Homo sapiens: one gene and its partner. The protein of the gene in region 1 interacts with the protein of each later gene in a pairwise test. Each region holds a gene or a part of one and is shown on either strand. Other genes may lie near its edges.

The links.
Region 2: the proteins of CCDC152 (region 1) and FARS2 interact in binary tests that used the Homo sapiens proteins (3 or more experiments, as listed by UniProt).

Annotation. Positions count from the first base shown.
Region 1 is NC_000005.10:42,744,789-42,760,607, forward strand, and holds the start of CCDC152 (coiled-coil domain-containing protein 152), read left to right. Parts: upstream 1-12,029; 5' UTR 12,030-12,097; exon of another isoform or gene 12,098-12,437; coding exon of another isoform or gene 12,438-12,498; intron 12,499-14,331; coding exon of another isoform or gene 14,332-14,333; coding exon 14,334-14,420; intron 14,421-15,819.
Region 2 is NC_000006.12:5,539,411-5,555,333, forward strand, and holds part of FARS2 (phenylalanine--tRNA ligase, mitochondrial), read left to right. Parts: intron 1-5,769; coding exon 5,770-5,930; intron 5,931-15,923. UniProt on the Homo sapiens protein: Is responsible for the charging of tRNA(Phe) with phenylalanine in mitochondrial translation.

The DNA of each region.
Region 1 (15,819 bases):
CTTCGGACAGAAATTTTATTGGATGATTTGTTCTTTCTCTAGTACTCCTTATATCAAATAATAACATCAGCATTAGAGATGGTCCAAGTTACAAAATATGAAATCCACCAAAGTCCGCTCTCCCTGACCTCCAAATATTCATTCTATCACCAAGATTCAGCTTCTGCCTATCCCTAAAATTTTCTCTTCCTTTTTTAAAAGTTCAGACGTTTCACAACTACCCCTTCTATAAGCTCTGGTCCCACCAAAAGTTTCTTTCTAAAATACATACCTACTCATGCCAAACCTTTGGTTAAAACATGTTGATGCCATCCTACTGCCATAAAAGTAAAGTCTATACCCCTTAGCCTGATATTCAAGGCTCATCACAAACCTGTCTTGTGGTCCTAGTCTTGTAAAGTTTACTTTTGGGCACTTCTAACCTTATCATCACCTACAATCAACCCTTAATCAAAACTCTGAGCTTTAACTTTGGCACGATGATTTTGATGGACTTTGTGGATTTTATTTTTAAGGAATTGACTTAGTGGACTTAACCCTGTTTTGTATCCTGACTTTTCCTGGCCCCATCAAATCTGACCAATAGAAAGAGCCATGCCTCCTCCCTTGACCACAAAAAAGGCATTTCTGAAATAACCAAATTCATCTGTATTCTTTTGAATAACCATTCACACAGCTTTTTTCTGAGCTCATTTTAAAGAAATGTTTACACTGGTCCATGGTTATAAAAACAGCGGACGTCAGTGAGAAAGCACAAGAGAGATCCTGAGAGATGCCTGCCTTCTCAGGAGTTTGTACAAAATTTTGATGCAGTCAATAGGGGGCGCTGCTCCTCTCTCCTCCTCGGCATCTCAAGCATTCCCAGCATACAAACTCTTGTCCCTAAACTTCCAAGCCACACAAATAACAGGGAAGCTAGAAAAAGGTAAAAAATTGTCAGGGTGAGAAGGCAGGAGTCAGAAGCAGGGCCAGCTTCATGGGTGTGTGATAGCACAGAACCCCTACATAGAAAGGCTATCTAAGTCCATTCTGGCTGCTATAACAAAATACTGTAAACGGTGTAGCTTTTAAATAACAGAAATTTATTTCTCACAGTTCTGGAGTCTGGAAGTTCAAAATCAAGGTGCCAGCAGATTCTGTATCTCTATATCTGGCGAGGGACTGCTTTCTTATTCAGATGGCGCCTTTAAGTTGTGTCCTCACATAGTCAAAGGGGAGAACTTTGGTCTTTTCAGCCCCTTATAAGAGCACTAATCCCATTCATGAAGAAGAACCCTCATAACCTAATCCCCTCCTAAATGCTCCGCCTCCTAATCCCATTAAATTGAGGATTAGGTTTCAACATATGAATTTGGAGGAGAACACAAATATTCAGGCCATCTGCAAGGGCCCACAGTTGATTGTATGTTCTGCTGTTCCATCATGAAATTCTTAATAATTGAATAGGGGTCTCACATTTTTATTTTGCACAGGACTCCACAAATTATGTGGCCTGGCCAGCTCTGGTCACAGGGTTTGGGGCCCAGCACTTCTACCCACAGTTAGCCTCCAATAACAAAAGGTTTGATATTGGATTTTCTTTGTCAACTTCTTTTTACCATCCAGGCTCAGATATAAAACATTTTAATCCCATCTACCCCTAAAATTGGTTATAAGGTATTTTGTTAGTGCTCATTTTATATTACCACTTCCTAGCTCAGCAGCTGATTTTCTGCCCAGAGCCTTCAGTCAAGGGAACAGGCTGTCATTTCTTTCTGTTTGACCTAGATTCTTTCTTTAAAAATCCTAACATAAACTCTTTCAAGATGACTATAATGACTTAAATGGAACTGGAAATCACCTTTCTGCAGCAATATCACTCAAGACATGGGAATAAGGTTTTTATAAAGCACATTATGTAGCTGAGGAGACAGTGACACTAAACAAATTGAGAAGCATTCAATGCCATATGAAGTCAGTGGATGAATTGTTTGGTAAAAGTTATAAATGATATAAATTAATAAATTACTATTTATATCTTTAATTCTCTTTAAACTATATACACAATTACCTGGGAGATTCTGATCTCTGCTACTATGATCATTTTTAGTAGTAAAAAGTCAACATACTTTAAAAAGGGAAAAAGAAATAACTGAAGGATTTTCTGCCTTAGTTGAAGAATATTGTAAACTCAGTGAGATTAGATTGATTATTCAAGCCCAAGAAGCCCTGAAGTTACTTCCAGTGGAGGCATGTCTTCTGAGGTTACAACTCTGAATTTGGCAGCACTTATATTAGTAACAATATGAACATCTTTGATCAAGAATACACTAGACCTTCTCAACAAATAACATAAAATAGAGCTCCCTGAAGTTTCATTTCATTCGGTGATGATGGCTCTCCTTCAAAAACAGACATTGTCATTCAATGATGCATCAAAATATCTCAAATCCTAAGTGACTGTCAAAAAAAATCCTCTTAAAAGAATCTCAGAAGGATGGAGTCCATTTTAGAGGAAAATGAGTTGTGTGGATGAAAAGTTCATCTTTAGGAAAACCTAAAACTGCTTTCCCAAGAAGCCAGAAGGTGAAAATAGCAGTGCAGGAACCAAAGGAACAAATAAAAATGTTTAACAACTCTAACATGCAAATGGAACAGGTTGTAAGTAACTGAAAACCACTTATGGTCTCTAATTAGATTAGATTACTAGCTCTCTTTAGAATCAGAAAATGGAAGCCACTATTGATAATCTTTATCAATCAAAAGTCGACTTGAAAAAAAACCTCATTGATAGTGTTAACTTAAATGTTTCCTTTAATAAGGCTTGAAGAAGAAAAACAAAATATATTTTTAAAGTTTCTGTGAAGAAAATAAAAGAAGCACTTAGAGTTCAAATGGAAAGTTTCCAAACTGGGCAAACATTTATAGTCTGAAATGCACAGCTTAAAAATGAAATTCAAAAGCCTCAGCTCAAACTTCAGATAGTGCTTGAACTGCATCAAGAACACGTAATGCAACTTTGCAGAAAATTAATGGAGGAAGGAATTTACCACTTACAAGAGAGAAACCAAAAAATTTCCCAAAATATATAAAAACATGGCCACATACATCTGAAGACAGCTCCTACAGGGAGATGGCTGAAAGCCTGGGGTAAGAATAAGCTCCTTCTATCAAAGGAGTATTCTCTGCCATGAGGAAAAAACTCTAGAAAGATCGTTGGAGCTTTGTGAACTAACAAGATATTCAAAGAGCCACGAAGAGAAAATGGTCACAACAGTCAAAATTTGGTAGAAGTAGAGTTTAAGTTTCAGTTTTTTCCAGGTGGCCCCTTTTGTCATTGCTGTTCCACATACAGTCCCAGGCAGAGGCCAGAGAGGATCAGGAGATCCGCTAGACTCTCAGGTCCTCAGAGAAGGAGGATTGCATTGTGAGGACTCAGGGATCTGGTGTCACATACAGGCTGACAGCTTTCACAGCTGCCGACTCTGAACATCTACAAGACATTTGACTGTGTTTTCTCCCTTAAAAATAACTTTATTTCTTTTTTGTTTAATTTCAGTTATTTAATTAATGCTACATTTGCTGTTATTGAAGTTTGATAGAATCACATTTTCCCAAAATACTGTTTTGTGAATATAGGTGGTTTAAATGTAATGCTTATGAACATATTATTTCAACTTTCTTGAACCCTCTAGAATTAAACAGTTTAATTGCATTAAACAGGCCACTACTCCTTAAACCGCAAACCACTATTACATGACCAGGTGGAGCCATTTGAAACAGCAAACCATTTTTATATGCTAAGAGATGTTATTTAAAATATCTAAAAATAACAATATCTACCTCAATAAGTTTTCATTGGTTTTAAAAGCAACACGCACACATGCAAACACACACACACACACACACACACTAGTTAAACAATTTTTGTTGGTTTAGCCCTAAATCCATAGATTAATCTGGAAGACTGGACATTTTGCAAGCATTTGCTTTGTGTTTTGTAATTTCCTTTTAATCTTTGTTATTTTGTTTAGGATACCCTATACTGTTTAAATATTTCTAGGTATTATGAAGTCAAACTAAGAATTTTCACTTAAAAATTAATCGAATTTACTTATTTTATATCAAATGAATTCATCCCAGATTTTTAATTTAGTTGTTAAGCATTCTGGATGTATTTTTCATAGGAACACTATCAGATCACCACTTGAAAAGAACACAGTTTTGAAATTATCTTTCATTTCATGTTGGAGAAGAACACTTGACCAGAAGAGAACAAGGAGGCAGATGGTGGCTTCTGTGAGAATGATGAAGAAGACTCACAGACACTTCCAAGGTCTGCAGCATTGGTGTAGTGGTTTCCTATGTCATACTTTCTTTTATGTGAGTCACACTGCATTTATTTGCCATAATTTCATTTTCATAACATAGGAATGGATCCCAGAGAGAGAGAGATAAAGATTCCTTAAGACTAGTGGGCACAACCTGTGTACAGTAGAAAGATGTGGTTATAGTGGTGAGAAAGCAGTTGCCTGAGGTAGAATTAACTGAATAGTGAAAGTAAAATGGCAAAGAGTAGGCCTCTCACTGAGGGTTTGGGCTCATCAAACAAAATCTTGATCCTTTCTGACCTCATTAAGTGTCTTTTCAAGAAGATATGATATCCTCAACGTTTATAGACACTCTGCTGTGCCTTATACTGCCTATTCATATATCTAGCTTCAATTTGTTCATTTTTTGCTTGTTTTGGTTTGGTTTTTACTATAATCTTTTCTGGAGACACTAATGGCAGGGCTATGAATTACTTTTTTTGTAGGAGTCAGAGGGTGAAGCACATCCAAATTGGATCTGTTCGCTGTGGTTTTCTTTTTCTTTTTTTTTATTACTATAAGTTCTGGGGTACATGTGAAAAATGTGCAGGTTCGTTACATAGTTATACACGTGCCATGGTGGTTTGCTGCACCCATCAACCATCATCTACATTAGATATTTCTCCTAATGCTAACCCTCCATTAGCCCCCCGACCCCCCAACAGGCCCCAGTGTGTGATGTTCCCCTCCCTGTGTCCATGTGTTCACATTGTTCAACTCCCACTTATGAGTGAGAACATGCGGTGTTTGGTTTTCTGTTCTTGTGTTAGTTTGCCGAGAATGATGGTTTCCAGCTTCATCTATGTCCCTGCAAAGGATGTGAACTCATCCTTTTTTATGACTGCATAGTATTCCATGGTGTATATGTGCCACATTTTCTTTAACCAGTCTATCATTGATGGGCATTTACCTTGGTTCCAAGTCTTCGCTATTGTGTTCACTGTGTTTTAAGAGTCATCTGCCTCTACAGTTTCTCCATTTCTTTTTTGATATTGCTCAAATATTGACAACTGCATAGGAAGATATGTACACTCCTATATGTAGATGATTTTTAAAAAGCATTATCTCAAAAGTTACTTTATTTTGCTAACTACTATTAGAATGAATGAGCATATTTCAATTTTTCTTACACAAAAATCATTTGGCAGATGTCCTCTCTTAACTAATACAACAAACTATTTTTCCCCCTTTACTTAGGCCTGCATAATGGAACTGTTATTTTGACAGGTTTATGTAAGGGTAATTATTGGTAAACTTTTTGCAAAGTGGCTATAATTATTACCTTCCTGTATTTACCCCCTTTGCAGCTCCTGCCATCAATAGATGGAGTCTGTTTCTTCGCTACTTGAGTCTGCGTGGCCTTGTACCCTGCTTTTACCAATAGAATGTGTGGAAGTTGCTGTAGGCCAGTGCTGAACCTGGTCCTCTAGAGCAGGGGTTCCCAACCCCCACACTACAGACTGGTACTGGTCAGTGGCCCATTAGGAACTGGGCTGCACCGCGGGAGGTGAGCAGCAGGTGAGGAAGCGAGGTTTCATCTGTATTTACAGCCACTCCTCATTGCTTGCATTATCGCCTAAGCTCTACCTCCTGTCAGATTAGTGGTGGCATTAGATTCTCACAGGAGTGCAAACCCTATTGTGAACTGTGCATGCAAGGAATCTAGGTTGCACAGTCCTTATGAGAATCTAATGCCTGATGATATGTCACTGTCTCCTATTACCCCCAGATGGGACCGTCTAGTTGCAGGAAAATAAGCTCATAATGATTCTACATTATGGTGAGTTGTATACTTATTCATTATATATTACAATGTAATAATAAAATAAATAAAGTCTACAATAAATGTATTGTGTTTGAATCATTCTAAAACAATCCCCCCATCCCAGTCTGTGGAAAATTTGTCTTCCACGAAACCAGTCCCTGGTACCAAAAAGGTTGGGCATCACTGCTCTAGAGGGCCTTGCATGTCTGTGATTTCTTTCTCAGGATGATTAAACTCCTTAAGAACAAGCCTGGCTGAGCCTGCTAGAGAATGAGAGACCAAGTGGCAAAGTGACAAGAGTGATACCAACTAAGTCTCCAGAGACTGAGAGCCCGGCCCAGATGAGTAAAACTAGCTAAGCCACTTACCTGAACGATGGCTAACCGCCAATGCATTAAGAACCCAGCCAAGACGAGAAAACTTGCCTACCTGATCCCAGTTTAAACTGCTGACCTTAAATAGCATGAGCTAAATAAATGGCTGTTTCAAAGCACTGCATTTTAGAATGGTCTATTGTATCACAAAAGCTTGCTGATATAGGAACTAACATTGTTCATTGGTTCATTCTTTCTTTTATTCAACAAATATTTATTTCTGGCCTACTCAAAGCCAACCCAGGTTTGACACATTTATCCTAATCTTCAGAGGTTTGTTCTCATTTTATAAAGATGAAATGGAAGGGCAGAGAGATAAATTGACTTGCTGAGGACCACACAACTAGTAGGAGCAGAGCCAGGATCTGAAGCTAGGAATGTTGAAAGGCTCATTAACCTGCCCCCACCAACAATGTTATCACTAAGAAGGTAGGTTATGAAAAAGTTGATGTTCTCTGGGAGCAATGGAATATTTTAGGCCCAAATTGTCAAACTTATGCTCTATTATGACATTGAAGCCATCATGGATCACTTGTTTATGTACTGGAACAGACTTAAGACTAAATTTTGAGAAAAAGTCTGACTTCTTCTGAGAATACCACATAGCCACCTCCAAGTAGTTGTTGAATACAAGGCCATTGAAAGCTGGTTAGACTATTTTATTATCACAAAAATACTACCCTTACCATAGACTCACTATCTAAAGTATATTTATGTCAATAAATTAAGTAGAATAGCTTCACTTCCTGTCCTCATCCAAAAATGCAAACTCTGCCCAGATAGCAACATTGATTCTACTCTTAATGAAGCTCATTAAAAGATGGAATATTTATATATCTAAGTAGGATTGTTTCAGGAAAAGTAATCCAAGTACTGCACGGTTTAGACTTTATTTTAGAATCATGTTCAAATTCCCCTGTCCATTTGGAAAAGGATGGGGATTAGTCTAACCAACAGTGTTCCATTGGGTCATAAACCTGATGCATGGAATGTATTTTACCTAATTACTGCAGGAAATGCTGAGAGCTAGAGATCTACAGAACTCGAAGCCAAAGTTGCAGTTGAAGCCAAGACAATATGGTCCAGAAACAGATACTGAAATATGAGAATTACGTAGAGAAACCAGAGGAGGGAGATAGTGCATCAAGAGATCAAGTAGAGGTTAAAAGTAACCCTAGCATTTAAATGTTGCCCACAGCTAACATTTTTTTTTTTGAGACAGAGTCTCACTCTGTCACTCACTGTGGAGTGCAGTAGCGTGATCTCGGCTTACTGCAGTCTCCACCTCCGGGGTTCAAGGGATTCTCCTGCCTCAGCCTCCCTAATAGCTGGGATTAAAGGTGCCTGCCACCATGCCCGGCTAATTTTTTTTTTTTTATATTTTTAGAAGAGATGGGGTTTCGCCATGTTGGCCAGGCTGGTCTCAAACTTCTGACCTCAAGTGATCCACCCACTTCGGCCTCCCAAAGTGCTGGGATTACAGGCGTGAGCCATCATGCCCAGCCACCCACAGCTAACATTTTGATGGAGGACAGTCGCTGAGTAAATAAAATAAAAGTGAGACCTGAAGGGTACATTAAAATGTTAGCCCTTCAGTTCTCACTTTTATCTTATCTACTCAGCGACTGTCCTCAATCACTGTAACTGAAGCACCTCCCACTCACTTTTAAAATCGATATCATAGATTTGTGTTTCTTCGCACTTATTACAATTTTATGTATAGGTAATTTACTCAATGTATTACCTATTTCCCTTTTAAACTATAAGTCCTCTAAGGTCAGGGGCCAATCTGTTTTGTTTATTCCTAGTTTTCTCATAGACCTCAGGACATAGTTGGTGCTCAAGTATTTCTTGAATAAATAAATGTGTAATTACTGATAATCTTAAAAAGGCAAAGGAAAGAAATAAAAAGCTCTAAAAGCTTTCTACACAGAAGATCAATGCTTCTCAAACATTTATATGCACATGAATCACCTGGTAATGTTGTTAAAATGCAGACTTTGATTTAGCAGTTATGGGATAGAGTCTGAGACTGCATTTTTACAAGCCCGCAGGCGATGCCCATGTTGCTGGTGCAGAGACCACACTTTGAAAAGCAGGGGCCTAGATCATGATTCATTATGATTGCCATTTCTGATCCAATCTAGCCTTTTTCATAGAGATACTTCGAAAGTGTCTTAAAAAGCTCATTTCCACCTTTACTCTCAGGCTAATATTGAGGAAATTGCCTATTAAATTATCCAGTGCCTCCTATATGAATCTTAATGTGAAAAATTAAGAAGTTAGAGTTAGGGAACATGGTTCCTCCTGAGAAACTTGTATGTTTTCTCCTCTTTTACAAAAATAAATAAATAAACTAAGTAGTTAAGCCTGTATCCTTTTTTATTCCAACCATCAGTAAATTCAAAGCCAAATTTGTAGCAGAAATATAAAAACTTTGTTGACCTACAGGCCAGAGTATTTCTGTTTTATTTCTCTACTGCTCTTCAATTTCTAATTTATATTTCACCTTGTATAGGTGAAATATGTATGTAGCATTTTTAAATAAATATTCATGGAAATGAGAGCAAGCTGAAATTTCAGCAGTTGGTGAATTTGATTCAAAGACAAAAAGCATGGCCTAAACAGAGGTAAGAATATCGAGAGAGTTAAATAATAGGGCTGGAACAAAGGACTCCATAGATTAGCCAAACCACTTATAAACATTTGCTGTGATATGGGAGCAACACCATAATATTTTGTTGTTATAATATGCCGGTGATAGTAACTAAAATAATCAAGTGAGATTCCAATGCCAGAGCAATATTGCCAATAACATACACTAGATTTCAATCCTCTGCTAGTCTCTCCTTTGAGACTGTAAGCTCCAAGGCAAAAGGAGAGTCTCTTATTTGTCTTTGCTCTCCTTAGTGCCTAGACTTGCAGCAGCTGATGTTTTGTAAGTACTTAAATATTTTAGAATGAATTAATGAGTGAAGCTGTTTTCAACCTAAAAAAATCAATGTATCACTCATTTTAAGATCTTTATGTACATAAACCGGTAGCTTCTGATTTTTTTTCAGCTGCCCAGGTACATATGCATTTCTCTTCCAAATCAGGGTATTTTTAATGAATTCCAGTGTTACTTTCTTTGTTAGTATGACAAAATAATGTAGTTTGTTTCTCTATTTTGGTTTTCCAGGCAGTCTTAAAATATATATTAAATAAATCCTTGATCTATCAGAAAATAAATATTCTCTTTTTTCCCAACTTTTATTTTGGGCTTGGGGGGTACATGTGCAAGTTTGCTACATGAGTAAATTGCATGTTGCTGACATGTGGTGTATGAATGATCCCACATCCAAGTAGTAAGCAAAAATGAATATTTTCTGAGCAAATATTTGATGAATTCTGTTTCTCAGTTGGATGGTATCTGAAGAATAAGACTGTGAATACAACTGTGAAACACATTCACTTTTTAAAGATGAAATCATGACAAGTTCATTTAGTTTCTCATTGAAAGATGCACTCTAAACCTACTAGAATTCTTTGAAAAAAATGCTAACATCTATAAACTGGAAGATAAACTTGCAACCCATTCTAAACTAGAAAAATTAAGCTAAACTTTTCTGACTTATTCCTGATGTGTTGGTTCATTTCTATTTTCTCTATGGTAGGCTCTATGGAGAAATATATACATATACATATATATGTGTATATATATATACATATATGTGTGTTTGCATATATACATATATATATATATAATATTCCAACTTTCTTAGTCTCTACATCCCAAAATCATTAGATAGTCAAAGCTTCTGTATTTCAAATGTTGGAACATCCAGAAGATTTGGAAGTACAGATGAGGCAGGGGATCTAGGGAGCTCCCTCTCCACCTTACACATTCCAGTCACCACATATTTTCAAAGGACTCCTGAAATTTGCCTAGGATGGGCCTAGGTGGAACTTAATACATACATACATACATACATACATACATGCGCGTGTGTGTGTGTGTGTGTGTGTGTATATATATATATATATATATATATATAAAGAAAATAGAGTTTCTTCCCCCAAGGAGCCAATAATAAATACAGCAAAAGAGGTAATACATCAATTCAGTCTTAACAAATGCCACAGAAAGCTAGCATGTTCCATAGAGTAAGGAAAGGTAGATCACAACTGATTGATACGATCAGTGAATGACTCATGGAGAAGGTAGCATTTTAGCATTTAGGGTCTTAAAATGGGCTTGTTTCAAAAGTTATTATGACATGAGTTACATGGAACATTTTATATTTGCTAATTGGGTAGAACCCGCAATTCAGCAGGTCATTTTCAATATTTCTATGTGTTGCTACTAATGTTAGGGAAAGCTTATTTGAGCAGCAGAGTGAAGACTACAACCCCCATTTTCCACTTTAACCTAATTTTCTTGCCATTATGCCACACTACCTTTCAACTAGTAAAGTATGGGTTATCATATTACTGTTTATATTTTTTCACTTGCCAAATTTTGGAGTCTATCGAAAAATCACATTAACAAAAATAAACCTCCCATCTCCCACTCAGAAAAAAAAAAAAAAGCAGATGAGCAAAGTTGGCAGTGGATTCGCTTTCAAACTATTACTGAACAACATTCAAAAATTCTAATAATTAACATTTCTGAACACTTACTTTAAGCAAGGATCTCCATTAAGCACCTTATAAATGCATCACTTCATTTAATCATCACAACCGTCCTAAGAGGCAGGCTTCTTTTTTTTTTTTTTGACTGAGTCTTGCTGCTGCGGGTCTCGGCTGGAATGCAATGGTGCGATCTCCGCTCACTGCAACCTCCGCCTCCCGGGTTCCAGCAATTCTCCTGCCTCAGCCTCCCAAGTAGGTAAGATTACAGGAGCCCGCCACCACGCCTGGCTAATTTTTGTATTTTTAGTAGAGACGGGGTTTCACCATGTTGGCCAGGCTGGTCTCCAACTCCTGACCTCAGGTGATCCACCCCCCTCGGCCTCCCAAAGTGCTGGGATTACAGGCGTGAGCCACAGCGCCCGGCAGAGGCAGGCATTATAATTAATCTCTTATACAGATGAAGATGCTTAGGTGCATGAAATTAAGAACTTACCCACTATCACCCACGGAAAAAGAGAAGAGTTGGGGTTTGAATCCACGCAAGAGCCCACGCCCTTAATCATTAAGCTACCAAGATATAACTCTGTAGATGGGAAACCATATCTATTAACTGGCTCTGGAATTTTAAAAGGCAATTTTATAAGTTACAAAAATAGATATGGATAATTATTTATTCAATGGAGCTGACTCACAATTCAGAACACCCAATGTGATTTATTCTTTGGTTGGGGAAACAATTATTGATCCGGTGTTGATTCATGTTCTGGAAACCACATGAAAATACCTAAGCAGCCGCAGATGCTGAGCGGAGCTGGGCCAAGTTGGTAAGAACTGCTGGTGGTAGGAGCTCCAGCATAGCGCACAGGGCGGGCCCAGAGAAAGGCGGGCCCATTGTTGGGGGATTCGGCTTCCGGAGGAGGGGACAGCATTCAGGGGTGTACCAGGCCCCAGAGGCAGCGGAAAGGGAGACTGTGGGGAACTAGGAGCAACAGCAGGTACACTCCAAATTCTATTGACGGTTCGAAATTCCCGCTTTCTCCATAGAGATTCCTTTCTTCATATTTCATTACAGTGCTCTGGGTCCATTACAGGCTTTTCTTTTCAGACACCTCTCTCACATCCGCGGGTCCTCGGCCCCCATCCTTTATTTTTGCTAGGCCGCTAAGGACGCTAGAAAGCGATTCGAAACTCCCGCTTTTTCCATAGAGATGCTTTTCTTCTTATCTCCTTACAGTGCTCTGGGTCCATACAGGTTTTTGTCTCAGGCACTTCTCTCACATCCGCGGGTCCTCGGCCCCCATCCTTTATTTCTGCTAGGTCCCTAAGGACACTAGGATGACGGAGAGGGAGCCAGGGGACCCAGGCTTCAGGACTGAGAGTGAATTCTTGAGGGGAGGTGAGGAGGAAAGAGGAGGGACCAGAGCGTGGGGCAGGCGAGCGGCGAAGGACCAACTGTGTGGGGTAGGGGAGAGGACGAGCCCCGGGACTCAAGCCAGCAGACAGGAGGACCCAAAAGGAAACGGAACTGTCACGCTCCTGTGGGGATGGTTGAAGCCAGCAGGCAAGAAGACAAAGAAGGAAATGGGACTTTCACTTGCCTGTGGGGACGGTTGAAGCTGAGCCTTGAAGGTCACAAATCAGTCTCTGCGGCTCACTAAGGAATTTGACAAGCACTGAATCACCAGCTTGACACCGAATTTCACAGGGCAAGACCATATTCACTGAAAGGATCTTGACCTAAGAAATCAGAAGAGCAGGCAATGAAGATACCTAGAAATGAATTGCCTGGCTCTGCCATTATGGCAAAAGGGATATCATGCAACGATAGCAAATGGAATATTAGTGATGGTTTTACAAGGAAATAACAGGGTCTTCTTTGGGGGAAGGAGTTGAGAGAAAATCAAGCTCAAATTTAAATGCATTTATTTCAAGAGCCAGATTCTGAGACAAAACCCTAGTAAAACCTTTTTTATTTAAAAGGTTAGGTACCAAAAAAAAAAGGTGGGGGTGGAGGGAGTTTCCATTAACTACTTCAGATTACTATGTAGCACTATTAAAGAATAACAGTACTATCAAACAGCAATTATTTTTAATTTTACTCCAAAAGGAATTTTACTGTATCATGGGAGGCTATTAACAAATATTTTTCTGCTGTAAGGATCAAGTTTTAACTATTTAAGGGATTTTATATGTAGTTGTGCTTGCATATGTCATACATAAGATAATAATTCGAGATAATAATTCAAGAAACAAAATATACAGCCAAAAATCTGAGATTTAAAAACCATTAATAATTGCTAATGCAAAATATTTCAAAAGAAGAAAATGAGATATCTTGATGAAATAACATATTGTCAAGCAATATCTGTTTTGGTTAACTTCCTTTTAAACAATAATATGCCCCCAAATTGCTTTGAGTAACTACATCAGGAATTTTACTTACATTTTACTTTGGACTAGTTACCGCTTTCACACACCATACATTGGTTCATGTTTTTTCCTCAACCTAACATCCCTGAATTTCAAACTTGTATTTTCCCTTTCTTCTTTGCTATAGAAAAATCTAAAGACAAGTGTCTCATACTTGTTTACATTACATCTGAAGATGTAAACTCATCCAGTCAGAATGGATAAATTGACTTTTGCAAAATAGCCAGCATTTACATTCTGGGATTCTGAAGAAGTTCTTATGATTGATTTCATAGGACTAAAACTGAAACTCTTATTCTTCAGCAGTTAGCTGGCTATCCCCAAAGGTTAATCCCTTATACAAAATTACAAGACAATAGAAATGCAGAGAGATTGCTTTGAGCACATTAACTTCCATGCATCTTTTATTTACCAGTTTACCAAACAAAATATAAGAAATAAGCATAACAGCAGAAAACATCTGTGACATGATAGTTAAACAAGTATTTTTAACATCTTTAATTAAGAATAATTACAGTTAAAAGTCATGCCTCAGATTTAATATTGCATTAGGTTTTAATGCAGTAAAGAAACAAATATAAATAAGTCAACTGGGGTGTGGGTGGTAAGGAGTGGAAAAGACAATGCATTTGACCACTGTTAATATTGGTTATAACAAAAATTCTCGCAGTGCAATGGAGCCCAAGTAGGTGCCCTATGAGTTGAATATAGAAATGTTAGTATTTGAGCTATGAACACTATTGTGGTGCTTTAGATCTTATTTATTTATTTAACACTATCTACTGTTTACTACTTTCAGGCATGGACCAAAGCAGTGAAGGATGTATGAAAAAGATTAGCAGTGTGAATCTTGACAAACTTATAAATGACTTCTCACAGATAGAAAAGGTATGTAAAGATAGAAAACAATTCTACTATATAGGGATACATGGAACAGATTTTGCCAAGGGAAGAAGTTGGGAAGAAAGAAAAATATACCAAAAAATGATCAAGATAATAATATTATATTTTGCTATGCTCTTCTCTCTCATTTTAAAACTCCATGTTTAAAATATATCTGGCTTGGATTCATTTGTACTAATACATCAAAATGTCCCTATGACAGGGAAACAAATAATTTATGTACTTTTGCCAAAGTCAAACAGAAAATACATATAGTAGTCCCCTTATCTGAGGTTTTGCTTTTTACAATTTCAGCCACCTGAGGTCAACAGTGGTCCAAAACTATTAAATGGGAAATTCCCAAAATAAACAATTCATAAATTTTAAATTCTGCACCATTCTGAGTAGCACGGTGAAATCTTCCATTGTCTCTGTCAGTCCTGCCCAGGTTGTGATTCATCCTTTTGACCAGTGTATCCATGTTGTATTATAGACCACTTGTCTGTTAGTCACTTGGTAGCCACCTCGGTTATCAGAAGGGTGAGTACAGTACAATAAGATAATTTCAGAGAGAGAGACCACATTTATGTAACTTTTACTACAGTATATTATAATTGTTCTATTTTATTATTATTGTTATTAACCTCTTACTGTGCCTAATTTATAAATTAAACTTCATCATAGTTATGTATGTAGAGGTAAAAACATACTATATATAGGGTTCAGTACTATCTGTGGTTTCAGGCATCCACTGGAGGTCACGAACATATCCTTCCATGGATAAAAGGGAATTGCTATACTTGAAAGCCTACATTGTCCAGGCAGGGCACGGTGGCTCACTCCTGTAATCCTAGCACTTTGGGATGCCGAGGCGGGCGGATCACGAGGTCAGGATATCGAGACCATTCTGGCTAACACGGTGAAACCCCGTCTCTACTTAAAATACAAAAAATTAGCCGGGCGTGGTGGCAGGCTCCTATAGTCCCAGCTACTCCGGAGGCTGACGCAGGAGAATAGCCTAAACCCGGGAGGCGGAGCTTGCAGTGAGCCGAGATCGCGCCACTGCACTCCAGTCTGGGCGACAGAGCGAGACTCCGTCTCAAAAAAAAAAAAAAAAAAAAGAAAGCCTACATTGTCCATAAACTCAGGAATGGTTTTAGTAAACATTGAAGTAAATGCATATTTCAATCTGTTATTATAACTACTCATTTTTTAGTATTTCCTGTTCTATCTCTTCCATTTTCCTTCTTTTTTGCCTAAAAGCAAAGCCATTTAAAGTCTGTCTCCCCAACTCTGGACAAATGGTAGACCAAACCCACAAGTGTGTATTGGGTTTATCCTCCCTCCTCTGCCTTCAATAGCTGTTGAAAAATGTAGGTGGTTAAATGAAAGAATTGGGAAGTGA
Region 2 (15,923 bases), on another chromosome or scaffold:
TTTAGTAGAGACGGGGTTTCACCATGTTAGCCAGGATGGTTTCAATCTCCTGACCTCGTGATCTGCCCGCCTTGGCCTCCCAAAGTGCTAGGATTACAGGTGTGAGCTACCGCACTCGGCCAACCATTTCTACATTTCTAATAAACCAGCTCTAGAACATCTGACTTTTAGCAGTGTAGCTTTGCAGTGAGCCTTCTGAGAAAAGCAATTGGAAGTTGTATTTGTGAAGGTAACTGTTTTTATCTTTTCAGTGAATTCTTGGATATTAGCCAATGTGATTAATGACTTTAATTTTAAGACTCATTGATGTTAAGCCATTCTGTATGGCAGTAATGGAATGGCAGGAGCAACTATCTCTTGTGGCCATTTCAAATGCGAAAAACTGAATTCTCATCATCAGCATTACTCCCAGTGTGCAGCTTACCTCGTCACACAGGACAGCCCAGCCTCCCCTCGCCGTGTTCTGCAGATGTGATTTCCAGCTGGCGGTGCTCCCTCTGCTCCGTCTCACCCTGCTCCATTCAGAAGACGTGCCACATCAGTCTGGAAAAGCAAGTCCTCCTTTACTCTGAGACATATTACAGTGGAGCCTAGACTGCCATCATCATGGCAACCATGGGGCTCCCTCTTATGTGAAGTTCGTTCGCCCTTTACCTGAGCCATGTTTTTCACCTGTCCCGCTTGGCAGTGCATGCGTGGGTCCGGCCTCTTCAGGACTGCTGTGCTTGGCAGCTCCCTGGCTCAGCTGGGAGGAAGATAGCAAATGGGAAATTTCTCTGTTTTTCCATAACTTTATGATAATTCGATTTTGGACTCATACCTTTATTTCTTATTGTTTCTGATATTTCTATTTTGACAAACATAATAGAATGTAGATTTACCTTTTAGATGGTATTTATTCCCTTCAATGCTGTTACTTCTGAGCATTTTGTGATCATTTCCATTTCTCATCTGTGAAACTGGTATTCAGTGTCTAGCAAGCAATGAATGAAGCATTTAGTGCTTTTTTTCTTCTTCCGTACGCCTTTAGCCTCCCAACCCTTAATTGTGAACATCGTGTAAACTTTGCTTTTCAGAACACCAGCCCTTTTTTGCTTTTCTCTGAGACATCATTCATTCGCACTGTCGTGTCTTCAGCTTTGTGCTGTGAGAGTGACTCAAAGAATCCACTGTGTGGGAAGCACATGTTCTTCTCATTAGCACAGATATATGTCTAAAACTCGTTTATGGAGTAGTCAATACTGTGTATGACATTGTGTAGGGACTGTTTTCTCAGAACTCTCAGGTTTAGATGGGGAGAGAAACTTGTAAATGTGATAGTTGCTAATAGAAATATGTACAGCGTGTTTGTCACGGGGAAATGAAGGTAAACTTAATGCTTCAGGGTCAGAGGAAGAATCTCACAGTCAGAATACTTCAATGAAGTTTTAGAGGACCATGACAGGTTACTTTAGGAGAGGGGCAAGTGTTAGGAAGATCCGCTATATTATGACAAGGACATATGATGTTTAGAGAACTGTGGATAATCTGAGGTGGTGGGCCCAGCACCAGGTGTGAGGGGCCTTTGGTGCTGTTGTTAGGGGTTATATTTTCTTTCCCAGTCATAATTCTCAGCTTGCAGTCTGCAGATTCCTAGGGGGTCTATGGATCAGCACTTAGAATATGTAAGAGTTTGCTATGGAACGTCTTAACTTTGTGGGTTTAAATATATATGTAAGCTATATTGGCATGTTCTATATCATTTAAATCATTACACCTCAAAGTGTGGTGCTCAGAATGGTGCTGATCCACAAACTATCAGTTTCCAGTTCACAAGGAGATAACCACAGAGGCTGAGAGTAACCGTTGAGAAACTTACAGCAATTTGACTTGGTACTGCCGTGTCATTCAAGTGTAGTATGTTTGAAATGCCAGTTTGTTGAAGTAGTATTACACACAACAGAATTCATACTTTTAAAACATAGCTACATGAGTTTTGAAGGATATATACAGTCATGTAAACACCCCACAATCAAGATAGAGAAAATTTCCATCTCCTGGAAAAGTTCTCTTATGTCCTACCAATCTGTTATCTGTCTCTATAGTTTCGCCTTGTCTAGAATGTCATGAGAATTGAATTCATATTGTAGATAATCTTTAGTGACTAATCTCTTTTTGTTAAACATAATTCTTTTGAGATTCATGTATTTTGTTCTGTATAGGAATAAGTTATTTTTATTACTAGGTCATATTCTGCTATCAGAAAAGGGTCCTGATCCACACCCCAAGAGAGTGTTCTTGGATCTCGTGTGAAAAAGAATTCCGGGCAAGTCCGCAGTGTAAAGTGAAAGCAAGTTTATTAAGAAAGTAAAGAAACAAAAGAATGGCTACTCCATAGACAGAGCAGTGGCATGGGCTGTTCCACTGCATAATACTTAGGGTTATCTCTTGATTATATGCTAAACAAGAGGTGGATTATTCATGAGTTTTCCAGGAAAGGGGCAGGCAATTCCCAGAAGTGAGGGTTCCTCCCCCTTTTAGAGTATATAGGGTAGTTTCCAGACATTACCATGGCATTTGTAAACTGTCATTGTGCTGGTGGGAATGTCTTTTAGCATGCTGATGCATTAAAATTAGCATATAACCAGCAATGAGGAGGACCACAGGCCACTTTTGTCGCCATCTTGGATTTGGTGGGTTTTGGCCTGCTTCTTTACCATATCCTGTTTTCTCAGCAGGGTTTTTGTGACCTGTATCTTGTGATACCACCCCTGCTGACCTCCTATCTCATCCTGTGACTCAGAATGCCTCACCTCCTGGGAATGCAGCCCAGCAGGTCTCATCCTTATTTTACCCAGCTCCTACTCAAGATGGAGTCACTCTGGTTCAGATGCCTTTGACAATTCTACTATATGGATATACCACAATTTCTCCATTCACTGGTTGATGGACATTTTGGGTGTTTTGGGGTTGAGCTATTCTGAATTAAGCTGCATTGGACTTCCAGTGCACATGTTTCCATATCTTAGGTAAATACTTAGGAATGGAATTGCTCTGTCATATGCTAAGTGTCTGTTTAATTCAGGGTTTCTCTGTTTCATGTTTTGGGTTGGATAATTCTTTGTGGTGGGAAACCATTCCGTCCATTATGGGATCTTTAGCAACATCTTTGGCCTCTACCCACTAGATGTCAGGATGCTCCCCACTCCCAGTTTTGATCACCAAAAATGTCTTCAGACCTTACCAAATGTCCCCTGGTGGTTAAGATGGCCCCCAGTTGAGAAATATTGGTTTATTGTAAAAAACTACCAAACTGTTTTTGAAACTACCAAAGTGGTTTTATCATTCCCACCCAATAATTTACGAGTTCTAGTTTCAATGTGTCATATCTTAATTTTTATTCATTTAAATATATTTTCTGATTTCCCTTGTGATGACTTCTTTGGCTCATGTGTTACTTAGAGAAGTATGTTGTTTAATTTCCCAATATTTGGGAGATTTTTCAGATATTTTTCTGTTGATTTCTGATTTATTTGCATTTGGACATAGAACTTTTTTTGTACAATTTCAATCCTTTTAAATATTTGAAATGTATTTTGTGTTCCAGAATATGGTCTGTGGTGGTGGATGACCCATGTACACTTGAAAAAAATGTCAATTATGTTGTTGTTGAGTGGAATGTCATGTGCATAATTTTATATGTGACCAAATTATCAGCCTGTGATGTGCTGGAAATGTTTAAAAAGTTCTTTGCTAATGACCAGTGCCTCTCCATCTGTCTGTAGCTTATAGCCTGTGTTCCCATTTGTCTTGATGATTGCCTTGATGCCAAGTGATAACCGCAGGTGCTGGTGTTTCACTTATAATGAAGCCTTTTCCCTCCTGGACTTTGCACACCTAATCCTGAAGCTCCATGAATGTTCTGGTTCAGCTAGAGCGAATGGGGATTTGTGAAACAATTATAAGGGTTTTCTGTTGTTGGTGGTGGTTTTTTTTTTTTTTTCTCACTCTGTGGACCAAGCTGGAGTGCCATGGCACAATTTCAGCTTACTGCAACCTCCACCTCCCAGGTTCAAGCAGTTTTCTTGCCTCAGCCTCCCGAGTAGCTGGGATTACAGGCACACGCCACCATGCCTGGCTAAATTTTGTACTTTTGGTAGAGACGGGGTTTCACTGTTGGCCAGGCTGGTCTTGAACTCCTGACCTCGTGATCTGCCAGCCTTGTCCTGCCAAAGTGCTGGGATTACAGGCGTGAGCCACCGCTCCTGGCCAAGTTTTTTATGTTTTAGGAAAACATTAAATGCAAGGTAGAAATGAGAACAAAATGTTTCTTGTGGCTCGTTGAGACGAGTCCTGCCTGTATCTCCAGAATCCACTCCTCAGCCTTCCCGTGCTGCATCCCGTCCCATTGCTACTGAAGAAACTCCTTCAGTCTGGAATTTCCTATCACTTTTCTCTACATTTTGAATCTGGATTAGTTATGTTTGTTTGTTTGCTTTTTTTTTTTTTTCTGGGTAACAAATTACACTTAGTGGCCTAACATAGCACGAATTGACTATATCATAATATCCTTGCATGAGGAGCCTGGCTATGGATTGATAGGGTCCCCTGATCAGGATCTTACCAGGTTGAAATCAAGGCAGAGGCAGGGCTGTGTACTCTGAAGCTGGGGTGCTATCATCAGCTCACTCCAGCTATTGGGAGAATTTGTTCCGTCCCACTGTAGAAGTGAAGTTCCCATTTTCTCCCTGGCTGCTGGTGCCTCTCTGAGCTCCTTTAGGACTTCTCAAGGGCCCGAGCCATGTGGCCTCTTCACAGCCAGGAGGTGGATCTCTCTCCAATCGGCCAAGATGGAGTCCTAGATAAAAAGTAAAGCAGTCACAGGCTTAAATTCCCATTGTGTTCCTAGATCCCACCCATACTCAACGGGAGGAGTTTACACAAGGCATGTGCATGCGGGGTGGGAGTCTCCGAGGCCATCTCAGCCTACCACAGGATCCTACTCATCTGTTAGTGTCCAGTTGGAATTATATCCTTTCATGAGCTCATTTCATAAGCTTTCCTGCAGTGTGAACTGCTCCTTTGCCTGCCTTCATTCTGCAGTTTCTATCTTCCCTTTTACACTGCCTCAGTTTGTGAAGTAAACCCTTCTAATTTATGGCACTGACACAATCTGAGCAGGACACTGTACCTTTGGAGTAGGTGGTGCTAGTTATACCCCTCGTCTGGGCCTGCTTGTGTTCTCTGCAATGCTGAAGTGGCTGTTGGTAAGAATAAGCATTATGGTGTTTAATAAAACTGAGGTTCTTAAAGGCATGACGTATGTACTTTCTTCATGTAAGTTCGTTCTAAACATGTTATGGCCACTATGGCATGTTTTGAATGTATCTCATTATCTACTACACTTAAGGACAGAGACCGTCTTTTCTTTCCACTCTGTAACCTATATTCAGTGGGCTAAATGTTTGAATCAGAGCAAGCAAAGACTACAGAAAAATCATAACTCAGTTCAGGAACCAGTGCTTCAGAAAGCCTAGAATGTAATCAGAAATGAAAGACAGTACTCCAGACAGTATGACTTCAGAATCCGTTCATGAGGGCAGTCCGGAATATGGAGATGAGAAAGCGTGGAAGATTGGGCACCCTCATGGATGTCTTTGTAGCGGCTGCCCAGTGCCTTTGCCCGCTGGTAGGCATCTAATTAGTGTCACTGATAACTGTCAGGGAGTGGTATGAACCTATCCAATCTCGATACTTTTTAAAAACAACTATTTTGTTTCCTAATCACAGCTGGTGCTCAAGACCGAATCGGCTGGGCTTTTGGCCTAGGATTAGAAAGGCTAGCCATGATCCTCTACGACATCCCTGATATCCGTCTCTTCTGGTGTGAGGACGAGCGCTTCCTGAAGCAGTTCTGTGTATCCAACATTAATCAGAAGGTGAAGTTTCAGGTAAGATGACTTGCAAGAACTGAATAGATAATAATAAAAATGGCTGTCAAGGATCGACAGGATCATGTACTTGAAAGCCACTGAATTTTATTTTATTTATTTTATTTTATTTTCATTTTACTTTAAGTTCTGGGATACATGTGCAGAACGTGCAGGTTTGTTGCATAGGTATACGTGTGCCATGGTGGTTTGCTGTGCCTATCAACCCGTCATCTAGGTTTTAAGCCCCACATGCATTAGGTATTTGTCCTAATGCTCTGCCTCCCCTTGCCTGCCACCCCGCAACAGGCCCCGGTGTGTGATGTTCCCCTCCCTGTGTCCATGTGTTCTCATTGTTCAACTCCAACTTATGAGTGAGAACATGTGGTGTCTGGTTTTCTGTTTCTCTGTTAGTTTGCTGAGAATGATGGTTTCCAGCTTCATCCATGTTTCTGCAAAGGACGTGAACTCATTCTTTTTTATGGCTGCATGAATTTTAAATAATGTGAATTTGTAAAGAAGTTCTGGCCAGGCATGGTGGCTCATGCCTTTAATCTCAGCACTTTGGGAGGCCAAGACGGGTGGATCACCTGAGGTCAAGAGTTCGAGACCAGCCTAGTCAACATGGTGAAACCCTGTCTCTACTAAAAATACAAAAATTAGCTGGGCATGGTGGCACGCACCTGTAGTCCCAGCTACTTGGGAGACTGAGGCAGGAGAATCACTTGAACCCAGGAGGCAGAGGTTGCAGTCAGCTGAGATCGTGCCATTGCACTCCAGCCTGGGCAAAAATAGCGAAACTCTGTCTCAAAAAAAAAGAAGTTCCTAAATAGAGGTCCATAAACACACAAGGGGTTCATAAACCTTCAGAAATTTTATGCAAGAGAAAAGATATTTGTCAATATTATTAGTCTAAGCAGAGAACCAATTTTGTACTTTTTTTTTTTTTTTTTTTTAGACAGAATCTCACTCTGTCGCCTGGGCTGGAGTGCGCGATCTTGGCTCACTGCAACCTGCGCCTCCTGGGTTCAAGCAATTCTCCTGCCTCAGCCTCCTGAGCAGCTGGGATTACAGGCGCCCACCACTACGCCCAGCTAATTTTGTGTATTTTTAGTAGAGACGGGGTTTCACCATGTTGGCCAGGCTGGTCTCAAACTCCTGACCTTGTGATTCGCCCGCCTTGGCCTCCCGAAGTGCTGGGATTACAGGAGTGAGCCACTGCGCCCAGCCCTCATCTAGTATCTTTTCCAACAATTCTACTCCATTCATTTTTCAGAATGAAGCTGCATATATGTTAGACCATTTGATCCTATGCCATAGAACTCTGATGAAAGGTTTTTTTAATTAACGATTTTCTTTTCCTGTGTGCTTTATTTTTGATAATTTTTATTGTCTTCTCTTTGGGTTGCTCATCTTTTTTTTTTTCCTGTTTTGTCCAAGTAACCATTAAGCCCATCCAGTGAATTAATCATTCCCCAGATAACTGTATTTATCAATTCTAGAATTTGCATTTGCTTCCTTTTTAGAGTTTTCATTTATCTACTGAAATGCTTGATTTTTTCATCCATTTCATCCATTCTTCCTTAAATTCTTTCACATATTCATAATGGTTATTTTATTTTATTTTATTTTATTTTATTTATTTATTTTGAGACGGAGACTTGCTCTGTTCCCCAGGCTGGAGTGCAATGGCATGATCTCAGCTCACTGCAACCTCTGCCTCCTGGATTCAAGCAATTCTCCCACCTCAGCCTCCCGAGTAGCTGGGATTACAGGCATACACTGCCATGCCTGGCTAACTTTTGTATTTTTAGTAGATACAGGGTTTCACCATGTTGGCCAGGCTGGTCTCAAACTCCTGACCTCAGGTGATCTGCCCATCTTGGCCTCCCGAAGTGCTGGGATTACAGGTATGAACCACTGCGCCCGGCCTCATAATGGTTATTTTAAAGTACTTGTCTGTTAATTCCAACCATTTGATTATCTAGTGTTCTTTTGTTGTGGTTGTTTTCCCTTCCTAATCATGGCTTACATATTTCCTGCTGCTTCACTTGTCTTTTTGTTTTTTTTTTAATTGTGTTTGAATGGACAAAGACTGAGGTAGATAAAATTTATCCCCAGAAAGTCTTATGCTTTCTACCTTCTGGCTGCTAAGGTGACTAGGCCAGATCTTTTTGTTCTAATCAGGAGTTGAGTTGAATTTCACATCTGCTTTCCTCTTGATGGTGAGATCTAGCCCTGCAGCAGAGTTTGGGATCTAACCATGTGAGATCACAGGATCTCTTTCTGCTTTCCATCCACTTACCAGCTTCTTCCACCACCAGCGTTTGTAAGCAGAAATATTATGAAGGAGAATTGGCTGGCAGTGAGGGTTAGCTCTGTTTCTCCATTTTCCAATCTGCCATGCCAGCCCATGCTTGGCTGACGCAAGTGTGGCTCATTCTTCTTATTCCAACAAAATGTCTTTGCCAGTAGCAGGCTAGCTCTTCTGCCTACTCACGCCCCAGTGGCGACAGCAGCCATCAGTGTCTGTCTACCCTAGAAGGGCTCATCTCTCTCTGGAGTTATACTTATTTATATTTGTGTACAGACCTTTTCAACTGTATTAGTCCATTTTCATGCTGCTGATAAAGATATACCCCAGACTGGGAAGAAAAAGAGGTTTAATTGGACGTACAGTTCCACATGGCTGGGGAGGCCTCAGAATCATGGCGGTGGGCGAAAGGCACTTCTTACATGGCAGCAGCAAGAGAAAATGATGAAGAAGCAAAATCAGAAACCCCTGATAAACCCATCAGATCTTGTGAGACTTAATCACTATCACGAGAATAGCACAGGAAAGACCGGCCCCTGTGATTCCATTACCTCCACCTGAGTTGCTCCCACAACATGTGGGAATTCTGGGAGATACAATTGAAGTTGAGATTTGGGCGGGGACACAGCCAAACCATATCATCAACTTTAAGGACAGGTATGATTTTTATGAGTGTATTTTGTTATTGTTATAGTGAAGCACACTGATTTTGTGTGTGTGCCCATCTGCATCTTGAACCTTTCTATGTATATATGCATATATTTTTGGTTTTACCTTATGAGGACTTTTAAAAACTTCTACTTGAATAATTATCTGTTTTATTTTAGCATCAATTTCCTTGTAGACTAATTTGAAATAAAGCTGTATCTAATTTACAATAAAACCTGGCTAGGGCTGTAACTTTTTCTCATTCTCTTTTTAATATATTGTCAGTTATTTAATCAGCAAACATTTAAAGAACACCAACATCGTGTAGAATGGTGTGCTCAACACCATGGTGTGACAAATAAAGATGAAAAACACAGTTGCCACCAGAATTAAGTGGCTTAAATTCAATTTTAAGTGTACTTACAACAATCTTTTTTTATGAGACACATAGAAATAGACTCTTGATCTCTTGCACTAAATGTCATTTTTTTTCTCCTTTCTGCCTTCAAATTTGAAAGCCAATATATGCATACCTGCACTAATATATAATTTTTATAGTTGTCTTTGTGTAACAAACTTAAGAACTTCTAACGGGGCAATTAGGATTTGTACATTCATATTTAGTATATGTTCATAAAATACTTTGTGAAGTATAGATTATAGATCATACTATTACCTAAGTATTCACTTATAATTAGTATCTATTCTTGTTAGTTTCCTGTTGCTTAGGTAACCAGTTACCACAAATCTAGTAGCTTAAAACAACATGTATTTATTATTTTACAGTTCTAGAGGTCAGAAAACCAAAATCCACCCAACTGGGCTAAAGTTAAGGTGTCAGCAGGGCTGACTCCTTCTGTAGGCTCTTGGGGGAATCCACCTTCTTGACTTTTCTGGCTTTTTTTTTTTTTTAATTATACTTTAAGTTCTAGGGTACATGTGCACAACGTGCAGGTTTGTTACATATGTATACATGTGCCATGTTGGTTTGCTGCACCCATTAACTCGTCATTTACATTAGGTATTTCTCCTAATGTTATCCCTCCCTCTTCCCCCCACTCCACGACAGACCCTGGTGTGTGATGTTCCCTGCCCTGTGTCCAGGTGTTCTCATGGTTCAGTTCCCACCTATGAGTGAGAACATGCGGTATTTGGTTTTCTGTCCTTGTGAACTGTCACCTTTTCCGGCTTTTAAAGGCCATCCTCAGTCCTTGGATCACAGCCATGCATCATGTTGCCTTTTCTCTCTCCTTCATCTTTTGTCACATTGCCTTCTCTTTGACCTTTGCTTCTTTCTTATAAGGATCCTTATGATTGTATCAAGCCTTGCTGGGTAATTCAGGATAATCTTCCCATCTCAAAATACTTCTCTTAAAGTAATCCTTTAATACTTTAATACAAATTAATTCTCTAATACAAAAGGAAATGTAAATTTCCTGTTGAATATAAGGTAATGTATTTCTAGGTTACAGGGATTAGGACGTAGATATCTTTGGGTAGGGTTGGGGGCATTTTTCAGTCTACCAGAGTCTTCCCTTTGACCCCTAAAGATTCACATCTGTCTTTTGTAAAATACATTCAGCCTATCCCAAGGTCCCACAAACTCTGAACCCATTGCAAAATCAACTCAAAATCCAAAATGTCATCTAAATATCATCAGCCCCTAAGTCCCATTTCATCATTTAATTATCTAAAGCTGGTTTATGTGACACTCTGGGTATGATTCATCCTGGGGCAAAATTCCTCCCCACTTTTGCACCTGAAGCGAGGTACCTACTCCCAAAATACAATGAGTAGGATAGGCATTGGAGAATAGTTGTAGACATTTCCATTCAAAAAGGGAGAAAATGAAAGGAGAAGAAAAAGAATCACTGGTTCCAAGCTATTTCAAAATTCAGCCATTAGGTTTCAAGGCCTGGGGATAATTCTCTGTGGCCCTTGGCTTCACCCATTTGACCTGTATTTCTACCCTCTAAAATATCCTTCTTTTTTAAAGTTCTTTTATTTATTTATGAGGCCAGGTCTTGCTCTTTCATCAGGCTGGAGCCCAGTGGTGCCATCACGGCTCACTGCAACCTCCACCTCCCAGGCTTACATCTCAGCCTCCCGAGTAGCTGGTACTACAAGCACATGGTACCACGCCCAGCCAATTTTTTGTGTTTTTAGTAGAGAAGGTGTCTTGCCATGTTGCCCAGGCTGTTCTTCAACTCCTGGGCTCAAGCAGTCTGCCTGCCTTGGCCTCCCACAGTGTCAGGGTTACAGGCATGATGAGCCACTGTGCCTTACCTCCTTTTTTGTTAAGGGTGGCATGTATATGCAGGTGAGTTGTTTTATTACCCTGGCTTTTGCCTGAAGAATTTGGGGAGTCAAATAGCCTTCTTTCTTTCCTTCTCTTTTTGTTCTTTTGTCCCTCTCAATTCCAGCTGACAGTGTTCCTGATGGTAAATCATTCTCAAAAACCTTGTGGCTCTCCCATTTATATCATAGGGATTCATTCCATTACACAAGAGGCTCCTCTGCAGATCTTTCTTGAATAATTCATTGCTATTTCTGGCTTCTGCTGAGACGCCTGAGGGGATCCTTGACTCATATGCTTAATTTCTTCAAAGAGCCCTCTGTTTGACTAAATACCCTGATCCTTCAAAACTTCTGAGGCATTAACAAAGGGTTGTATAGCTGCACTCATGGCTTTCTCTCCAAAGCACTTTTCTTTCAGCAAAACCCCTAACTTTTTGTCTTTTTCAGTATAGATAGGCTAAGAATTTCCCAAATTATCTAATCTTGCTCCTCTTTGCATAGCAGTTCTCTTAATTTGTCTGTTTTCTCCTGCAAGAATAAAGCAGGCTGCATTTTCACTGTTTGCTTGGAAATTTCCTCAGCTAAATATCCAAGTTCATTGTTTACAAGTTTTGCTTTCCACTTCCAATTCATCTAATTCTGCCGCTATGAATGAACAAGGATCCCCTTTCCTCCACCTTCCACTAACATGTTCCTCATTTCCTTGCGAGCCCTCACCAGCAGGGCTTTTGACATCTGTATTGCTACCACCAGTATGTTTATGAATATTTGGATATTCTCAGACAGTATAGGTTTTCTCTACCATGCTCCTCACTTTTTCCTTGCCTGTCACAGTCTATAACATCCATATTTCTACAAGAGTCTCTTTAAGGCAAAATAGCCATTTAATATCATGGTGCTCCAAGTTATCTACTACCCACTGACCAATTCCAAGGCTAATTCCACATTTTTATGTATTTGTTACAAGCAATACCTCACTTCCAGATACAAAAATACGTATTAGTTTCTTGTTGCTGCTATAATAAATTACCACAAACTTAGAAGCTTAAAACAACATGAGCTTATTATCTTATATTTTTGGAGGACAGAAATCCAGAATCAGCCTGATTGGCCTAAAGTAAAGGTGTCAGCAGGGCTGGTTCCTTCTGGAGGCTCTGGGGGAGAATCTGTTCCCTTGCCTTTGCCCGTCTAGAGACAGTCCTCAGTTCTTAGCTTATGACAGCATCACGTTGCCTTCCCCCAAGCCCTGCCACTTCCCTCTGTAAACACCTCACCCTCTCTCTGAATTTTTGCCTCCCTCTTCGAAGGACTCTTCTGATTACATGGAACCCACCAGGATATTCAGGATAATCACCTCATCTGAACATCCTTCCTTAATTATATCTATAAAGATCTTAATGTAGGATAACGTATTCTCAGGTTCCAGGGAGTAAGAGATGGATATCTGTGGAAGGGGGCTATTATTTAGCCTATCACTTGTGCCATTTTATATCCTATTTCGTCATGACAGATTGCTTGCCTTCAGATATAATAGAGTGGTTTGTCTTTAGGGATAAAAAATAAGGATAGTATTAAAGTGTTAGCCATTTTTAACTATTTATGTAGAGTAGTCATATTTACATATATAAGAGGGGACTGTGTTGACAGAAAACTTGTTTTATTACTACAGTTGACCTGCCTTGAGAAAAATACTTAAAATGATTGTAATTCTCTGCAATCTCAGAGGTGGGGCGAGAAAATGGGGAAAAGGCCTGCTGGCAGCTATGAACTTGTGGATCCCCTGGCCAGGAAACTCTGGAAGCCATTTGGGAATCCTATTGTGCAAGAAGCAGAAATTTCTCTTCCTTGGTCTCCTTTTAGGCCCTCCTAAGTGATGCTCTAGGCTGTGTTGGCTTCTGTGGTGTCTTTCTCTGTGCGGCCTCCACATCCTGTCCTGTACATTTTTCTGTCCAGCTGTGGGGCACTCTCCTGGGTGCTAGCAACAGTCTCTGATTGATGGGACCCTGAGTCCTCACCTGTGTGACTCTTTTCCTGCATACCTTGAAACCCATTGTTTAAATCTAGTCGGTAAGAAACTCAAGTTAAAATGTGATTTTAATTTTTGATTTTCATTTTACATATTTTGAATTAAGTGCTTTGCCTACCACGGCTTTCTTTAACCAACCTGGATCTGTGCTTGAGATAAGTGGGTCAACAATATGGTTGGTCTGTTATGCAAGTGATAACTTGTTCTGTCCACCACTGCAGCTTCCCATGCTGTATTCGTTCTGAGTGTTTGGGTCTTTGTTGCATATACTCCTGCCAACTCCCCTGAAGCAAAATTTGCTGTTTCAGTGCATTGAACTGAATATTCAATAATAAAACTTTAATTTATACTTTGTTTTTTAAACAGTCTAAAATTATGAATTCAATATTTAGTCCTACACAGAGCGATACTTATTGAAAATTACTCAACATTGTACATTTTACTTACAGATTTTATTAGAACTTACTAATTCTGTGTCTATCCATGGTGGCTTACAAGGTCAGCCCTCATTGGATGAAATAATTCAGCAATGTTGGCTGTTATCTTTTTTGCCAGTTGAAGGGTTTTACTGGCTCTCTTCTGAGGCCACAGACTATAATATTTCTAATCCTGAATGGAGTCTCAAATACTTATCACTGCAACAGGAGTAGATGAGGATGGATGGGTAGTGGCTGCAAACCTATGATACTACACTCTATCCAAGATGATAATACTGGTAGTTAGTAGTTAATACTTACTTCAGCCTTACTCTGTGTCAAGCATTATTATAAAGACTTTCCATGTCTTAATTTAATTTTCTCAGTAACCCTCTGAGTTTGGGCGCTGTTATTCTTGCAGTGTTATACGTGAGAAAGTTGTAGCAGAGCCATCATCTCAATAGCATCGTTATATTATGTATGTGGCTCAATCAGGGCTTCCAGAAGCCATTCCCTAAAGTTTAACCTGAGTATAAAACTCATAGGTAGATTATTCAGAGCCGAAGGATTTAAATTTTTTTTTTAACAAATCTAAAAATCAGTATACAGTTTACAGAAAAATACAGCATGAAGTTTAAATGATCTAATTTATGAACTTACTGGTTTGTAGGCTACAAGTATTAATGCTTTCTCAAACTTCAGTGTGCAGGTGAATCCCTGATGGAGCTTGTTAAAATGCAGATTCTAATTCAGTGGGTCTGGGGGGGTGCCTGGGATTCTGCATTTCTAACAGTCTCCCAGGTGAAGCTCATGCTGCTGGTCCACGAGCCACACTTTGAATCAAAGTAATGATGGTTAAAATTATTTAACTTGTCAGGGTCTCAGCTGCATCGTCGTTCAATCAGATGGTAAAAGGAGATGGTCTGACTAGGTGGTGAAACTCACTTCCTTCTCTGTTGCACTCTCATTTTGAGTATAACTATTATAATAAGCAGGTCTGTAATTTGATACCTTTGGCACTCAATCTTGAAACTATTTTCTTTCTTTTTGCCCTAAATTTTTTTTCCATGGATTTCCAACAGTTGTAAAACTATTACACTTGTTTTTTGGATTAACCGCTGAAACTCCTTCCTTCCTTTCTCCCTTGTATTTTTCAAGGTGAGGGAGCTATGTGAATAACTCATTTAGTTTAAATGCACATTTTTAAAAATTATACTTAAGTCAGAGATTTGCTTGTGCATGTTAATTTGTGATGGGAAAGTGTTAGTATTTACTTCAGAAAAAAGGAAGCTAAAGACGAGGAAAGAAGAGAAAGGGCAAAGAATTTGGAAGCATCAGCAGGAGGGACAGTTACTATCAAAGAGTCTTGTATCAATTAGGTCATCTCTGAGGTCAGTCATGCCTAGAGTCCCAGGGAAAACTCTGGGTCAGAGTTCATCCTTGCTATTTCTATGGTAGCAAACATCAGCCATGAGTGCTGCATGATATGAGGCCTGGGAGTTTCTTAAGGCCAGGATTGGCTCTTTCATGCCTTATAGCAATCACAGTTCAATACACTATTCACCTGTACATTAATTTGTTGAGGACCTTATAATACTTGGCATTTGTTGAATGCTGTGTGTAAGCCATTGAGCTAAATGCTTTGCCTATGTTAGAGCTTTTATGCATCACAGTGGATGAGGCGAGTACTATAAATCCATATTATAGATTCTGAAACTGAGGCTTAGCGTCAGCAAGTAGTTCAACCATAACTGTGGTAGTAAGTAACGGAGCCAGGATTTTAACCAAAGCTGACTCCAGAGAGCTCCTAATATTGAACTAGTAAGCTGTTACTGTTGCCTATACCAAGCTGCTGTGCTAGATGCTAGAGTAAGGTGAACTTGGTCCCTGACTTAAAGTTATTTCTAATCTAGAGTATGAGGCAGGTTTGTCAAGAGACACTTATTAAATAATATGTAATATGGTTTGGCTCTGTGTCCCCACCCAAGTCTCATCTTGAATTGTACTCCCATAATTCCCACGTGTTGTGGGAGGGACCAGATGGCAGATAATTTGAATCACGGGGGCGGTTTCCTCCATACTGTTCTCGTGATAGTGAGTAAGTCTCACGACATCTGATGGGCTTATCAGGGGTTTCTGCTTTTACGTCTTCCTCATTTTCTCTTGTCACCACCACATAAGAAGTGCCTTTCACCTCTCGTTATGATTCTGAGGTCTCCCCAGCCACACGGAACTGTAAGTCCAACTACAACTCTTTTTCTTCCCAGTATCAGGTATGTCTTCATCAGCAGCATGAAAACGGACTAATACAG